Regions from separate parts of the Homo sapiens genome. Here region 2 is linked to region 1. The links come from fine-mapping of genetic effects on gene expression. A gene starts in region 1. The other region holds a variant in brackets. All regions are shown on one strand. Distances are from middle to middle. Region 1 holds the start of ERAP1 (endoplasmic reticulum aminopeptidase 1). Region 2 overlaps CAST (calpastatin).

Region 1 (8,757 bases):
GTTCAACAGCAAAGGGAATTTTAAAAGACAATCAATCTGAAATAATGAATTTAGCGTGGGCAGCACTTGCAGTTTAAAAGAAAAAGAGAAAAAAAAATACCTCAGTTCCCCTTCCTTGGTTCTGTAGGTGCTTTTGTAAAATCCGTGGAAAGTCTCCGAAAGATTGCCAGCATAGTGAATGACAACTGTGTACGGGAGCCCGACAAGGAGGGGCTCGGGAGCCAGCAGTGCAATTTGCTCCTGACGGGGGTGTTCCAGGACCTGCAGGGGTTCTTCCGATAGCCTCTCTCCAGCTCCCTTCCTGAGGGTGGCCCTAGATATCTGCAGGTGGTGACTATGCAGGATGATGGTGCTGGTGGGCTGACTGGCTGTGATTTCTACTTTCGTGGTTCCCCAGAAGGTCAGCGTGGTAAGGTTTGCATGGATCAAGAGATCATAATGAACTGGGATGACGTACTCAGGAAGTCGTATTTTATTCCAAGGAAATGGTGTCCCATCACTACGTTTTGGAGATGCTTCAGTGCTCTGACACCATGAAGGAGTGGACACAGTTAAGAGAGCCAACAGTGAGGAAAGTAGAAATGACATGGTTGCAAGGGACCATTTGAGGGGCAGAAACACCATCTTCTTGCTCTACCTACCTAGCGGCACAAATGTACAAAAGCAAAAATATATGTCATTAAAATGTTATTGACACAGCATAATTTCAGAATGTATCCACCCAGCATTCACAGAAATAGGCATAAACTTCCAAAAGTACTAGGTCTTTTCCTGAAAGTAAAAGGACCTTCCCTATGTTATGGTTTCATATAAGAAAGATGTTTACAGTTAGCAACAATCATTAACACGTACTAGAAAGCATCATTTGATGTTCAAAGTTTAAATTAACTCTACCTGTCAGGGTTCTTGGTTGAAAGCAACCGAACAAGCTCTGGCTGATATAGGCAGAAAAGGAATCATTAGGGGATCCTGAGTGGCTCACTACACGGGTCACAGAGTTGCAGGACATTTGGGAAACCAGGCTCATGAAAGAAGCAAAACCAGAACCATATCAGAGGAACATCTGATCAAGCACCACTCCCCACTGACACTGGACCTTGGAGAAAGTCACCCTAGTACCCTGGAAATCAAATGCTGACACAGTGGCAGCCACCACTAGAACGAGGTCTCCACTTCCCCTGTAAGTATATGTAATGGTAACCTTTAATAACATCAGTGTCTTCCTCAAATTGTCATGCCAAAAGTTAATTACCTATTTATTTAGCCAGGAAGAGCTTAAAGAGCTTAATTTTCCCAGTAGTTTGTGGCAAACGTATCAATCACCTGGATTGATTTTAAAGACATAAAAGCAATGTGAATTTCAGGCCAGGCATGGTGGCTCACGCCTGTAATCCCAGCACTTTGGGAGGATGAGGTGGGCAGATCACAAGGTCAACAGATTGAGACCATCCTGGCCAACATGGCGAAATCCCGTCTCTACTAAAAATACAAAAATTAGCTGGGTGTGGTGGTGCGCACCTGTAGTCCTAATTACTTGGGAGGCTGAGGCAGGAGAATCGCTTGAACCTGGGAGGCAGAGTTGCAGTGAGCTGAGATTGCACCACTGCACTCCAGCCTGGCAACAGAGCAAGACTCTGTCTTTAAAAAAAAAAAAAAAAGGCAATGTGAATTTTAAGGAAGTTGGCAAACCATGCCCCAAGCATCAAACATAAGTTTTTATTTCTTTTATACAAACGCACCTTTCTAATGGGTGTTTGCCAAGAGGGGCCCATACCAGGTGAATGCAAGTGATTGGCCCAAACTCCTCGTGTTCCAGTTGGGAAAAGTAGCAAGCTTACAATGTGGATCCCTCAAAGTGTTCACAGTACATGGAATTCTCCCTCTCTGAGATGTCAAGTTTCCTAACTCTGGCTGCATATTAATGTAACCTGGGAAGCTTTTAAAATTTTCGATGCCTGGGTCCTTATTGACAACAATTAAACTGGAACCTATGGTGATAAGATCGGGGTATGGTTTTACGGATTGTTTAATTTCTGGTTTTTGGTTTTTTTTTTTAAAAAAAAAAAAAACTGTCCAGAGATTTTACTGAGAAGCCAAGGTTGAAAAGCTCATCCTTGCCAAATCCTGGCTTTCCCCCTTCAACTCTATGTGATAGGATACTAATTCAAGGCAATGGCTGAAGTGCCTTCCCTAACCCCTGACTTCCTTGCTCCCTTCCCAAATGCACAGCTCAAGGGAATTCCCTTCTCCTCACCTCTGGAGCAATCTGGAGGCTAAACAGAAAGGATACCTACACATTAGAGAGAGTCTTGGAAATCTCATAATCCCAGTTCAAAAGGCACCACCCAGGTGAGACAGGAAGTGTGAACAGGGAGAACATTTTTTTGCCCTTGAAGTTGGGGAACTAGAGAGTAAATGGAACTTGTGTTTTGCTTTCCATATGGAATTACTGGCAGCAACAGCTTAATGAGCATCGCCCCTGCCCCAAGACGGGATCCAGAGGACTCTGTGAAGGTGGCAGGTTCAAGCATGTAAGGACTCTGAAAGTCCCCGAGACCTCTCCAACAGCCCCAGAGAAGATCTAGAAATTCCAACTCGTTATGAGCTGACAGAAAGGCTGATGTGCTGCGGAAGGGGTTGGTACCGGGACCTTGGATCAGAGGCTTTGCAGGGTTGGGTCCATGAGGGGTCCAAAGAGAAACAGTTATGTCTCAACGAGGATGCAGTGCATGAGTGGGGCTTGGTAAAAACTCCATGTAGTGAATAAAGGGCTTCACTAATAAATTCTCTTATTAATCCCAAACTGTAGGCTACATCCAAGATTCTGTGATCATGTTCGTGTGTTTGGCTCTTCCCCTGAAAAATTAGCTCTTGTTTGGCTTTGCTTCCAATAGTAAGTGTTCCAGTTTGAAACATGGCATTTCATGGTTCTGGCTGGTCTCCTAGGGTCTGGTTTTACTAACAATTTTCTGAAAGGGAGGCAGTTAAAAAAAAAGAAAGCTCTCAAAAACAGTAGTCTACTCAATATAAGCAGCTCTTCCCAAGAGAAGTACAATTCTCTTTGAAGTTACACTCCACTAACACTTAAAGGAATAGAAGCCAAGGAGGAAAAAGAACTAATATTTACTAAGCTCCTCCAAAGTGCCAGGCACTTTACACATGCTCACTCTCTCTAATAGCCTATTATTCTCATTCAAGGTGGGGTAACTGAAGCAAAGAACCATTCATGTAACTTTGCTAAGTTCACACAACTTGTTGGAATGCAATCCACATCTGTGTGAGTATAAACTCCCTGCTTTTTCAGCTTCACCAAGATCCCTCTTTTTTTTTTTTTTTTTTTTTTTTGAGACGGAGTCTCGCTCTGTCTCCCAGGCTGGAGTGCAGTGGTGCGATCTTGGCTCACTGCAACCTCTGCCTCCCTTCCTTTTATTGGGGCACTATAGTATATGAAATAGATCATCAAGAAGTAATTGAGGTTCTTCCAGAATTTCCTGAACAATGAAATTAACAAGCACTGTTGGTAAATAATAAAAATGCTGGATTAATTTGAAAAAAAAAAAAGTACTAGAATGTTTCTATTCAGGCCGCACCTGAAAATGTGCTACTTATACTAATTAAAAATCCTCAGGCAAGAGACAACTGTGCCCAATTTTCAAGTTTTTTGTTTTGTTTTGTTTTGTTTTGTTGTTTTGTTAATTGTTGACCACGTCCTGAGTTCAGAGCGAATCCTCTGGGTGTTTAATAGGAAACAGATAATTTCTTTCTGAACCTAGCCTACACAAAGAAATCCAAAAGCGTGAGGAAGTGTGTGCTCTCCCCCTTCCCCTCATGGAATTAACTTTGTAGGACCACCTGGCCAGTGAGGCACCCAGATAGGAAACTTTTAATTTGCGTCAACAGAGGTGCTTTATCTGAATAAAACCCAGCCAGAGCCAGAGCGAAGGGGAGAGAGAGAATTGCTGACCAGAAGAACAGGAGAAGCAGGGAGGGAAGTGACCTTAAGAACACACACGGCCCGCGCATCCCACCCCACCAGAGTCTTTAACCCAAAGCCTCTGGGTTTCTCTAGCAGCTATGGGCAGGTGCCCTCCTCAGCCCGAGCCAGCTGCCCGCCCCACCCCGCCTTTTGGCCTCGCGCGGGCGTCGGTGGCCTGCAGGACTGGCAGGCATCCAGGCGCCAGGCGGAGCGCTGAGGGAGGCTCCCGCCGGCCGAACAGCGGGGAGACCCGTGAAGCAGGCGCACCGGCCACGCGCCCGGAGGGACAGGGACAGGGACCGGCAGGGGTGGGCCCGCCGCCAACCCGCCGGGCACCCCGCGGACTCGGGCCTAGCCAGCGACTCCCCCCGCCCTTCCCGCGCCCTGTCTCGCGCCCCGTCGCCTTCCTCCCGCGCCCCGTCGCCTTCCTCCCGCGCCCCGTCTCCCTCCTCCCGTGCCCCGTCTCCCTCCTCCCGTGCCCCAGGCCCTCAGCCCCCCACTTGACGGGCGCAGGGAAGGGGCGGGTGCCGCGCTCTCCTCCCGGCCCGCAGTCCCCTACCCGCGGCTCGAGCGCGCTGTACCTGGGGTTCTGGGGCCGCCCTCACCCTTGCGCCGCCGCCACCACCACTGCCGCCGGCCTAGCTCCCCCAGGACCGAAAGTGAAAGTGGAGCCCGGGGAGCGGCAGGCTGGCGCTGAGCGGCGCTTCGGCCCGAGCCCTAGCGGCAGGCGGGGAAGCCCCTGGCTAAGGCGGGAGCTGGGGAAAGGGTAAACGGGAGTGGGGCCGAGCGAGGGAAGCCGCAACTCCCAGGAAGGGAATTGGTAAATGAGCGCTGCACGCCGGGGAAGCTGCGAGGTTGCGATGCGGGGGATCAGGCGTAGGAAGTGCACGCCTTTCTGAACGCGGATCCGTGTGTGTGTGTGTGTGTGTGTGTGTGTGTGTGTGTGTGTGTGTGTGTGTGTGTGTGTGTGTGTGTGTGTGTGTTGAGATGCTTTTTGTTTTTGTCTTTTTTTTTTTTTCACTGTTTAGCGTTGCGAGGGTTAGGGGCATGCAGGAAAGGGCCGGTGCTCAAGTTGGGGACCGAAGCCAGGCAGGCGCTGACAAGTCCACCAAGCCTAGACGCGTTCGACGCCCATTGGACTCGCTGGGTGTCCGTCATCTCGCCACTGCCAGTGGGCTGAGAGCTCTTGGCCCGCCTCGGAAAGAAACATGAACCCAGTACTCTGTCGTGGCAAAGTGCCGCACCTTCTGGGGCTTCGGTAGAGAATGACTACAGTGGGAGATGCTGTAGAGGAGGAAGGTGGGTTAGAGGTGGCCCCCAGGACTTTCCTGCACTACCAAGGGCCACTGTACCCCAAGGATTAGCTGCTTCCCGCATCAACACGTTCCCTCTGATTTTTCAAAGTAAATGACCATTTCTTCACTCCCCTTAGAACAATTAAAGCTGAATAAAATGGCCAAAAAGACCATCTTTAAACAGTTGAGGCTAAATGAGGTAACAAGTCAAGAAAACACAAACATTAAAACACCAAATGCTACAAGTTTATTACCGAAAATGGGTCCCGATCCAGACCCCAAGAGAGGGTTCTTGGATTTTGCGCAAGAAAGAATTTGAGGGGAGTCCATGGAGTAAAGTGAAAGCAAGTAATTAAGAAACTAAAGGAATAAAAGAATGGCTACTCATAGGCAGAGCACCCCCAAGGGCTGTTGGTTGTCCATTTTTAGGGTTATTTCTTGATTATATGCTAAGCGGGGGAAATTATTCATGCCTCCCCTTTTTAGACCATATAGGGTAGCTTCCCGACGTTGCAGTGGCATTTGTAAACTGTCATGGAGCTGGTGAGACCGTAGCAGTGACGACCAGAGGACACTCTCATTGCCATCCTGGTTTTGGTGGGTTTTGGCCAGCTTCCTTACTGCAACCTGTTTTATCAGCAAGGTCTTTATGACCTGTGTCTTGTGCCTACCTTCTATCTCATTCTGTGACTTAGAATGTCTAACCTCCTGGGAGTGTAGCCCAGTAGGTCTCAGCCTTATTTTACCCAGCTCCTATTCAAGATGGAGTTGCTCTGGTTCAAACGTCTCTGATAATTTGGTGAGTGGACCATGGTCCTAGTGGGAACAGGACCCTTTTCATGCGGTTCTCAGACTTTCTTCTCCCACTTCTTTATTGGCCTTCTTCCCTTTGAGAACTGGGGATTCCAAGTCACTGCAACAGTATTTCTCTTTTTTTTTCAATATTATGTTTCCTTTTTAAAAATATAATGTTTCATACTGCCTATTATCTCTAGTCAAGGACATTTTATAATATAAAGATTAACACCCTGTTCCAAGACTCAACTACGGTGGGATCCAGGGAAGTTTTTTTCACTAAAATTCAACAAGAAATGAGGACTTTGAGATCTGGTAATTTCTGCATGTTCAGAATTTGACAGGAGGTATCAATGGATAGCGTGTAGCCTCCAAGACCTCCAGACATCTCGGAGTGCTCCCAGTTTACTCAAGATGAGACCTCTTTGTCCAGTAAATGTATGCATTTCTTTGCTTTTATATTTATATTTTTGAATATGATGGTTTTCCTTTGGCTTCTAGTAAAGTTTTTTTGTTTTTGTTTTTGTTTTTTGTTTATGTGTCTTTTTAAATACATATTGAAAGTCCAGCTGGCAGAACTGAATGCACCCAACAGGCTGGAGGTTAATACAGAAGACAGCTGAGGAGACAAACAGGGCAATGCCCTGAATGGATGTGGGCAGAAAGGAGCTGAAGTGTAGGCGAGGAGAGAGCTGACACCACCACCCGCTCCACGCCGTTTCCCCAAAAGCTCACCCTGACTCAGACTTTAGCCTGTCGCCCTGGCCGTGATTTCGTCTTTAGAGTTGAAGTGCACTACAAAGAGCGATAAGTCAGAGGATTTGGCAGCATTCACTTCTAGTTTCAAAGCCCTAGCAGGGATGTAGAGGACACAGACCTTGGAGTAAGGACTTTAAGGAGTCCTAGTTCTAGAGCCTGTGAGATCAAAACAGCACATTACCGAGCTTAGAAATGGTTAGAAGGAAGGGAACAGAGAGAAAGGGTACCTAGGTTTATTGATTCCCTACCAACTGTTAGATACTGTTAAATGCTAGCTATGTGTGCATGTGTGTGTTTATAATTTGATCTCTTCAGCAACCCTGTAATGTAGATATTATGCTTTATAGATGAGAAAAATGAGACAGGTCGGCAACTTGCTCAGAGTCAAAGAGAAAACACACACTAATTCTACTCACATTGCATTGGCCAGAACAAGGAGGGGTTGGTAAACACTAATATTGTATACCATATAGTGTAGGAGGGCTGGTTGGCCGGTTGAGCCCATCCATTGCAGAGGCTTCTCAGTGTCCTTAGTCCCAGAGGTGAGCCAGAGGAATGAGGAGAATTTCAGGCCTAGGCCAATGAAATACATACCACTTTGAGCTATTACTGATCTACTTAAAAAATATTGAATTCTAGATATTGTCAAGTGATGTTCAATTTTGCTGTAATTGATTGATTCAGTTCTGCTTTCATTAGCTTTTAGTCAATTAATGTCAGCGTTTGGCTCATTTCTTCTGTTTTGCTGCCAAAGCTGCTCCTATTTTAATCATATTACCACTCTCCTTTTTGATGTAAAATCTCATCCAGAATCATGGTGTAGAAAACAGACAAAAGCAGGCCTGCTCTTATTAAACAGGGCAGCTCCACCCAGTCAGCCTTGCCCACTGCTATCCGGCCCTTCCACACACATTGTGGTCCTTGAGACTCTTCCATAGGCTCCCAGGGCCTTAGAACTTAATTTTTTTAAATGCCAATTTAAAAAAAAATAATAATGCCCCTCATTCTTGATATTCTTGATAAAGAGGATGACTTTTTTCCCCCTCTGTGCCAAGTTGCAGAGCAGGCTTGCTTAACAAAAGCAATACCATCTTATTAATAATCAGAAACAGGGAAGACGGTACAGATGCCATGTTAAAGACTGTTCCAAAACAGGCCACTGAGCTCATATCAAATAATAAAGTCCTCTGAAATGTGGCAGCTTGAAAGCATTTACATATAGTCTATCTCATGGGATCCTCACATTGTACTTATGCAGGTGGCTAGTAGCTCCATTTTTCTAGAATGAGGAAACAGGATTAGAGATGTGAAGTGACCTACCAGGGGCCACCACATGGAAAAAGCCTGCTTTAAAGTGAAGCCAGTTCAAAGGACAGCAGGGCTGACAGAGACAGAGAATACCTCCACTAAAGCCCTCAGCTCCAGCTGTCCTGAGCAAATCCTGTCCTTAGACCTTCCATTCAAGAGGACCAATGCTTTCCTTTTTGATTTAGCCAGTTGGAGTCAGTCTTCAGAGAGAGTCCTGTATTACCATACAACAGAGCACTATGGGAGCGAGCAATGTATGCCAGATTCTGTAGGAACAACTCAAGCAAGTTGAGTGACCACAGCTGCCCTTGAACTTCTAGAATTGTGGATCCTGAAGAACATTCTAGGTGCCACGAGGACTGATCACATGTTTCCCATTTTCCCTCCCTCAGGCATTTATTTCACAAGATACTGCTGTCTAAGGTAACCTGAGCATGTTTCCAGTTCTTGCAGCCTTACAGAACCCAGGGAATCCACCTGTCTCCAACCTTCCTCAGTAGGTGACAGGCCCATCTAACTGCTCTCTAGCCAGTCTTCTGTATTCCTGTTGCTTTTACCTTTGCTCGTGTCAACAAGGAGGTAAGTCACCATGACATATTTCTTAAATTTGTATTTCTTTCATCA
Region 2 (8,757 bases), 46 kb before region 1:
CATAAGTTGCAGAGCGTTTCACTGACAGGTTAAACTCCCTGAGGGCAAGGCCTTTGTGCGATTTTCTGTTGTATTGCCAATGCTTACTTAGGTCAGGGCTTGGCATGTAGTCCTTGCATATGAGTTAGATGTGTGGCTTACAAGGTTAACCAGCATTTTCCAGACAACCTCTACAAAGCCCACCCCCATGTAGGTAAAGGGCTTATCCCACACTGTCCTGCAAACCCCAGTCACAGCACCACATACCACACTATGCTGACTTTCACGTTTTCCTGCTGTGATAGTCTCTAGGCTTCTGAGGTCACAAGCCATACCTCATCCAGTGTGCAGCCCCCGTGACTCAGGAATGCCTGGTGCTTGTGAGCTGTTTGTTGCCATGAACTAATTAGAGCATATTCTCTGGTGAGAGAATCCTTCGTGACATGATGGATCTAATTTAAAATGTACAACAGCAAGTATAACCTGTAGACCCTTTGTAATGTTTACAAGGTTTCATACTTTGGATAAAATGTAAAATGATTTCATGCCATGTGTTTTCCCCCCCGGATAGGATAAAGATGGAAAGCCACTCCTGCCAAAAGAGTCTAAGGAACAGCTTCCAGTAAGCAAACCAGTTTTCTCTGAGGATATCTTTTCCTTTTGGCCCTGATTGCAATGGTGTTTGTTGATACATTTCCTGGTTCTTGCAGCCCATGAGTGAAGACTTCCTTCTGGATGCTTTGTCTGAGGACTTCTCTGGTCCACAAAATGCTTCATCTCTTGTAAGTCCAAAACTCTTGGTTTTATTTCTTTAGTTTTTTTTTTTTTTTTCCTTTGAGATGGAGTCTTGCTCTGTCATCCAGGCGGGAGTACAGTGGTGCCATCTTCAGTCACCGCAACCTCCACCTTCCAGATTCAAGCGATTCTCCTGCCCCAGCCTCCTGAGTAGCTGGGACTACAGGGGTGCACCACCACACCCAGCTAATTTTTGTATTTTTAGTAGAGACGGGCTTTCACCATGCTGGCCAGGCTGGTGTCAGTCTCCTAACCTCATGATCCGCCCACCTCGGCCTCTGAAAGTGCTTGGATTACAGGCATGAGCCACCGCGCCTGGCCTATTTCTTTAGTTTTAGAGTGGCAGAAATAAATGGAAACTGGTGACTTAGAATCTGACTTGGGAACTCAGGAACAATCATAAAATTAATGGCCCTCAACCCACTGTAGCCATTAAAAATGTGTTGCACCATGAAATACTGTCCCAACATAGTGGATGCTTTTATTAGTGTAACTAATATCAAGTACCAGTACCCCTATGAAAAGAGAATTTAAATGTAAGCTTATCCAAAATTACTCCTCAGACAACTTTACCTATTGATATTTCTACAATTTATCATTTCCCAAATTGCCTCCTAAGGGAACTTAGCTCCATGTGGAATATAGAGTCCCTCAAAGGGAACTCTGTTACTCGAAAAGTTTGGACAATATTGGGTAATGTTAAGCAGGTTTCTCTACTGTAGGATTTTCATGGCTTTTTATATGCAAATATATAGTGAGTCTGTTAGAGTTCCCAAACTTAATAACTGCAGAACCTTTTCTTGTGGGGTCTGGTTTATCTGTTTACTGGGAACTCAGTTTTTAAACCACTGAATGTATTATTAGCAGTCAGTTGGAAAGGGATTAACAGTTTCTATGACAGTGGCATGGAAAATATATTTATATCAGTTGGAGAATAGACAGAATGACAACTAGAAGAAATAATGATTCTTTGGAATTGCCTGAAGTTGTTACTTTTGCTGAATGAAGCAATAAAGCCCCTCAAAGAAGAGCTTACTAACCAGAGCATGTTATTCTCTGTACCCCTGTAAAAGCACCGTGCTGCTCAGTCACCTCATCCCGTGACCTTCCTCTCATCGTCTTCCATACAGACCACATCACAGCAAAGCACTCCAGCCTTGATTTAGAAACCATAAGACATGGGGAAGAATACAATGTGAGGAGTACGCCAGGAATGTGGAGTCATAGCATTACACTGAGGCAGAACAGATGAACAAATAGTGGGGAACAAGATCTCAATTCCCTTCCTCCTCCTATCATTATTATTATTACAATTGTTAGGGTTGTTTTTTCTTTTAGAAATTCAAAGATTTGGAAAAAGTAACAATGGATTTATATGCCCCCTTCAAAGATATGTAGCAGTGAAATGGTGAGATGAAACAACCTTTAAAAAAAATCTTACTCTTAGAAAATTAGCAAAGGAAACATTAGTGCCAACAATATAGTTAATAAAGTAGAAATAACTAATCATCATGAGAACCAAATAATCAAAATAGTTATTTAGTGGAAAGTTTCAAGAAATTTGGGGGAGAAGTATCACATATGGCTCATAATTAGTGTTCATCTGTAAAAGAGTAGCTCCTGTACGTACCATGCTCTTTGATATAATAGAACAGAAATGCTATATAAAAAGAAACACTTAAAACTATTCCCCTAATAATACTGAGATCACATTGATAATAGACTATTTTAAAACATCAAAGATATTACAAGAAAAAGTCTTTGAGAAGCAGTCAAAGCAGTATTCCTGTGATACATTGTCATAAACACCTTTATCAATAGTAGAGAAAGAGAAAAAGAGAAACCTGATAAACTAAATGCTTATTGAATTTTAAACTGAAATTTCTAAAAGTTTTAATAAGGTAGCCACCAAAAACAAAGTAGCAATAAGCATACCAGGAAATGAAAATAGCGGCATGAAAGTTAACTGGCCAATAGTTGTTTCTTTTGAAATAACAAATACTTTATAAAATACTAGCAAATATAAAAGAGGAAAAAAAACCTTACAAAAAATACAATTAAATTTTAACAGAGTAATATAATAATATAGAGATCAACTAAATTATTGGTAGTTTAAAGCCAATAGTCAGTTGGCTTTTATGAATTTTTAACATTTTACAAAACTGATAAATAGAGAAAATAATCTTACTAATAAAATTTAACATAAATGTGAGAAAATACAATAATCAGTACAGAGCACAAATAAATTATTAGGAAACACTATGTACAACAATTTTCTAAGATTAAACAAAAATATTAAACTGCGTAATTCACAAAACCTAAAAAAAGACTGAAGAAAATATTGCAATGATTTTCAAACTGTCCTTCTACTGAAGGTTTAAAGATGACTCTAACTGTTGAACACTCAGTTCTTATGTGGCATAAATATGTCATGAAAAAGATGGGGTCACATAGTTGCTTCTATGAGTAATTATGGTGCTAATCTTAAAATCTGACAAATATAACGGTATCAGCTAAAGTTACTTAAATGTGTAGATGTAAAAATTACATACAGCATACATAGAATATAACAAACAGTTAAATTATTTGCCATTATAAGTATTGATTCAGTAGCAGGAAAACTGTCAATATATTGTAGTGGTATATCAAATAGAAACAAATAATCATGTCCATGTAAAAGATCTATTTAAAATTTTACATATACTCATATTATAAATAAAAACTTTTTAAAAAGTAGGCAATCCCCTAATCTGTTAAAGAGTCTTTAGTTTTCAGAATCAAATATTCAATATCATGCTGGAGGCATTTTCCTTAAAAGCAGAAACTATGAAAAGTTTATTGTCATTTCTGCTTATTATCACATGGAAGAATCATTAACAACACATGAAAAAAATGACAAACATTAAAAGGGAACATTTGAATATATTTGTGGATAGCACTACTTGTAGATAATACATTTGTAAGTAACATTATGCCATGTTTATTAGTAACAACAGATGAGAAAATGTAATTAATATGAGATCAGACTTAATGTAAACTATAAAAGGAGAAATGATCAGAAAAATAAGGACACAAAAAAATTGAAGGCCATACATTAAGTCAGTTTAACTAAATATCTTAAAAAGAATGATGACAATTCAAGTCATTTTATGTGTTAATTTTTTATTAAATAGCAATAAGATACTTTTATAACTCAATAAAATTATTCAATGATACATTCGGAAAATAAATGTATAAAATATGAAAAAGTACTAAAAAGCATTTTTCAGTACTTTTAGGTAAGATTAATCCAACTAAACACTAGCATATGTTATACAGTAATAATAAGTGGAAAATACAATAATGTTGAGAAAGCAAACTCAAAGCATAGATCAATGAAAAAATTGAGAAATGGACATAAATGATTTAGTATTTTTAAAGAGAGTGAAAAATCATTATTTTATGCTTTTGTGTAGC[A/G]TTAGATGAATTAAATAACATATGCACATATAGCTTTGCGATACAAATTTCCAGACCATAGGTTGTTTCATACTTAGTATTAAAAGGCTTAAATAATAAGTCAATAAGATAGTTTAAGAAGAGACAATACAAATGTTTCAATGTCATTCTTTTCATTTGACAACTTGTTATTCTTTTCATTTGTCATATAAGCAAAGATTTCTCATAACTAAAAATGAATTTAATTTAGTACATTTTGGATTACCTAAAATATTACATTCTAAAACGGCTTTACAGGGTATAAATGGACAATAAGTATCTTATAGTTATCTAAATTAGTTTAAATAATTTCCAATAATAACATGCTGAAATGAATTTCTGAATGTTGGTATCTTTTTAATGTGCTTTTCTCCATCTTTTGGTAAAATTTGCAATTCTCCTTTTTCAAAATAAGCTATCCATAGTTGGAGTCACCAAAGAGTTCTGGACTTTTTTCTGGTTTTTCATCAACAGTTATACCTAAGTTTTTTTGTCAAAAGGGAGTATTTGAAATGAAGCAAATATTCAATATTTTTAAACAGAAATTATTTCAGAAAGTTTCTAGAATATTTAACGTTGAAAAAAAACCCTGAAACCTGACACCGTATACCACAATATACAAGCAATAGTAGTATATCATTTTACACTGATTATCATAATAAAAGTCAAATTCTGGCAAGCAAGGCCATGGGAAAACAGGCATGCTTATTCATTGCTTTTCGCAGTATGAATTCCTAGCAACATTTGAGAGGGCAGTTTAGCAAAATATAGCCAGCACCATAACTCACTCACTAGAACTTATTCAGAGCAATTTTAAAAGAGCTGAAAACTTTGAATAACCTAAATGTACAACAGGAAATGTGTAAACAAACCGTGGAACTCTAAGTTATATTATTGCATAGTATTTAGAATAATCAATATGAGAAGGAAATAGAAATAGCAAATTGTATAAAATAATACAATAGAGAAGAAAGAATTTAAATTTCTTTTAAAATTATATGTTATTATGAGTCTATTTGGTCAAGAGAATAAACAGTCATTAAGCTATCTTTAAGAGTTATAGTTAAGTGATGGCATTGTGCTCATAATTTTATATACAACATGTTACTAATAAAATTTTTTTCAATAAAAGAAATTTGAAGATGCTAAACTTGCTGCTGCCATCTCTGAAGTGGTTTCCCAAACCCCAGCTTCAACGACCCAAGCTGGAGCCCCACCCCGTGATACCTCGGTAAGCAGCACATCTTATTTGGGAGATAAATGTTTTTGCGCAGCCACAACTAGAAAGAAAATAGGGCGCCTGTTTAAAGCAAATGAAAATAGGCAGAATTATTAGGAAGATCAGGCACCTTCTATTTCAGAAGAGCCGAGACTGATGATTTAGCGAGATGGCAGAGATTAACTTTGAAATGATTAAATGAAACTATATATGTGAAAACATTGTACACATAGTCAAGGACCTTAATATTATTGTTGCTTTATAAGAATTGAAAGTGCAATAAAGTGCATTGTGTCTATATTCAAATTACTAGATTTGAAAAGTTCTTTAGCTTTCCTGATAATTGATTTTCTCCTTTATATTTTTTCTTATACATTCTATAATTTACTACCCATTATTTAACCTCAAGTTTATTTTATGGAATCGTCATGTTTGAGCTTTTACAAACATTTTACAAACGTCATGGAATAGCATTGTTTTCTTCCCAATTCACACCAGTAAAAATTTGTCACTTTCATACTAGCAGTAGAAGAACCTCAGCATCAATATTGTTTTAATTATTTACATGCTGTGAGGCAAGGCTGTGGGACCAAAGCTTTTCCAGACTTCCTTGACTAATCACCTGTGCAATACCAAATTATACATTACCAAGGAGACCACAGCACATCAAATTATAAAGGGATTGCCCTAAACCAGATCCCCATCTCCTTTGGTTGAGAACAGTGCCTCATTTGCTAGATGGAGATGAAGTAACTTTAGCGAAGTCAGCTATGCTTCCATTCCGTTTGATGTAGCATCAAAGCATATTTAGTGCTGTAGTCTGAGATTCTGATGGATTTTCATCCTGTTGCGTCAGCTTCAGGATCATCTGAAAATATCCAGAGGCACAAATGACAAAGCCCAGACCTGGCCCCGGGCAGCTCTACCATTAGCAGCTATAATCCTGGATTATAATAAAGCACTTAAAACCAGTAAAATGCCCCGTGTGTGTGTATGTGCATGTGCATGTGCATGTGTGTATGTAAACACACCCACAATGAAGAAAGTCCCCATGCAACAGAAAGGAAGAATCATTAATAGCCTAGGCTGCCGTTTACACTTCAGTTCTTAATATTCAGGCCAGAGATTCTGCCCTGATGAAGGCTATCAGTAAACATTTGCAATCAAAAACTTTTTTGCCTTTAAGAAGTAGGTTTTACAATGACACTTCTCTGATCACATTTCCCATCAGAGAGGCTTGTTTTTAGTTAACATTTTATTTGAAGATGTCACTAAAACAAGGTATAAAGCTTTATTTAGATAAAAATATTAGGAAATCGAAGAGTCAAATAAACCATGATAATTCACGGGAGCTTTCTTTGCTGTGATTATTAGATTGTTACTAACAGTGTTACATACACTGAAAGCATTTGAAGACATGATTTCAAAGATCTGTGTAATAAAATCACTCCAACAGGAAAACTGCTTCAAAGAAAATAGAAGATCATGGATGTGACTAAGCATGACAGGGAAAAGCTTTATCAGTCCCAAGACCTGGGTTCTATTCACTTTTTAACAATTTGTTTTCAAGCAACTGACTTAGCTTCCCTGAGCTTTTTACCTCAAAAAAAAAAAGCCTGCTTAGTTCACTGAGAACCATTGTGGGCATCAAATAAAACTGGATAGTGTATGTGAAAACATTTTGAAAATCAACTGGAAAGTTCTATACAGTATTGGACAGAGTTCAGCATGGTGTCTTATACAATGTAGATATTAAACACATTTTAATTGAATTCATTTAGAGGTGGAATTTTGAATGCAATGTGTTGAAAAATATGGATTTTGCTATAATAATACTAATAATAATTTACCATTTGTTGGGTCCTAACATACAACTAGTATTGTTTTAAATGCCTTTTCAATCATTTACTTTTCTCAGCAACTTAGGAGTATAAGTACTACTATTATTCACATTTCACGGCCAAGGAAACTGAAGCTGAAAGGGGTTAAATAAGCTGCCTGAATCATACAGTAAATAAATGTTAGAGGAAATAAGCTATCTTAGTTACAGTGATATTGTTGTCCATAATTTTTTTCCTCTAGAATACCAGCTCCCATTTCTGCAATTTCACTTCCATGAGCTTCCTGAAGATGAAAAGAGAGGTTTCCCCACCAGTTCAGAAATTCTCTGAAGTCTTTCAGGGCACTCATCACCAGTGTGGCAGACAAGCCCCTTCCACTCTCCTGACCCCAGATTGTCTCTGGGGTTTTGTGCTTTAGGAAGTATTAGGATGGCAGTGCCGAGCTCCATGGCTTCCCACAAACTGCGGGTCACGCTGCACTTTCTGAAATGCACCCCTCAAGATCTTAGAGTTTTAGAGAGGACCCACAGAACCAAAGAAACACTTACCCTCTATAGTTGCAGAATCTTGCTTCCTAACCATCTGACAACATTAGTAGATGTTTGTTTTCATATCCAGTTTTCTAATGGTGTTTAATTTCTAAATGAAAGGCACACATGATTGGTTCATTTGCTTTTGGACCCTTTATGTGACCTCCAGGTCACCCACTGGATATGGCTCCTGAGGCTGCCACTAAGACCTCCTTAACCTGGTGGGATCTTCACCAAGAGATGGGCAGGGTTGGGTGGAAGGTGCTGGCCCTCCAACCCCAGTAGGGTGACAGATACTGCCGCTCTTCTCCTGATCTTCCATTCCTAGGCTTCTCTTCTCTGACCCTGTCTACTCCCCTGCCCCAGCCCCAGATGTCTTTTTCTTCCAAGGAAACAGGTTCCCTCCTGAAAAGATGGAGTTCCTGGGCTAATTTGCCTCTGATACAGTTTGGCTAATGAGTGACTAATTCAGCATTATTTACTTTTCAGCAGAGTGACAAAGACCTCGATGATGCCTTGGATAAACTCTCTGACAGTCTAGGACAAAGGCAGCCTGACCCAGATGAGAACAAACCAATGGAAGATAAAGTAAAGGTAAAAAAAAAAAAAAAAAAAAAAAAAATTCACTAATAGTGAAATTTTAATCCTTGGGTCTTGACTCTGTCATTGTCATAGGAATATTGATGTGAACTTAACCTATATTTTAAACATGAAATTATAATGAAATAGAAAAATCAATCTGTACTCCACTGGAGGGGAAGGTCACTGAATCTGTGACAGAGATACCAGCGGAGCCTCCCTGAGGGGATTCTGGGAGGTAGGTGTGGGGTATGCATGGCTTCCTCCCATGCAACACAAGCAGTCAGCACATCCATTCAAATTAGCTGTTGTCCTTCAGGGTTGCTTATAAATAGGCAAA

What was found.
Region 2: its variant is fine-mapped to the expression of ERAP1 in lymphoblastoid cells (TwinsUK, PIP 0.95).

What each region holds. Positions count from the first base shown.
Region 1 is chr5:96,803,303-96,812,059 of GRCh38, forward strand. ERAP1 (endoplasmic reticulum aminopeptidase 1) reads right to left here and starts at 4,643. Exons shown (of 19, transcript NM_001040458.3): 1 at 4,558-4,643; 2 at 101-641. The coding sequence starts at 624. LOC124901033 (a long non-coding RNA gene) reads left to right here and starts at 4,156. Exons shown (of 3, transcript XR_007058879.1): 1 at 4,156-5,275; 2 at 8,526-8,712. RefSeq lists a silencer at 4,064-4,523 and enhancers at 4,096-4,597, 4,598-5,097, 5,254-5,323.
Region 2 is chr5:96,756,894-96,765,650 of GRCh38, forward strand. CAST (calpastatin) reads left to right here. Exons shown (of 32, transcript NM_001750.7): 23 at 551-601; 24 at 690-761; 25 at 5,381-5,479; 26 at 8,328-8,432. It also overlaps a transcript of ERAP1 not described here. Among named protein-coding and RNA genes, the nearest start is that of ERAP1, 47 kb to the right of the region's middle. The variant A/G (reference allele first, on the strand shown) is at 4,231.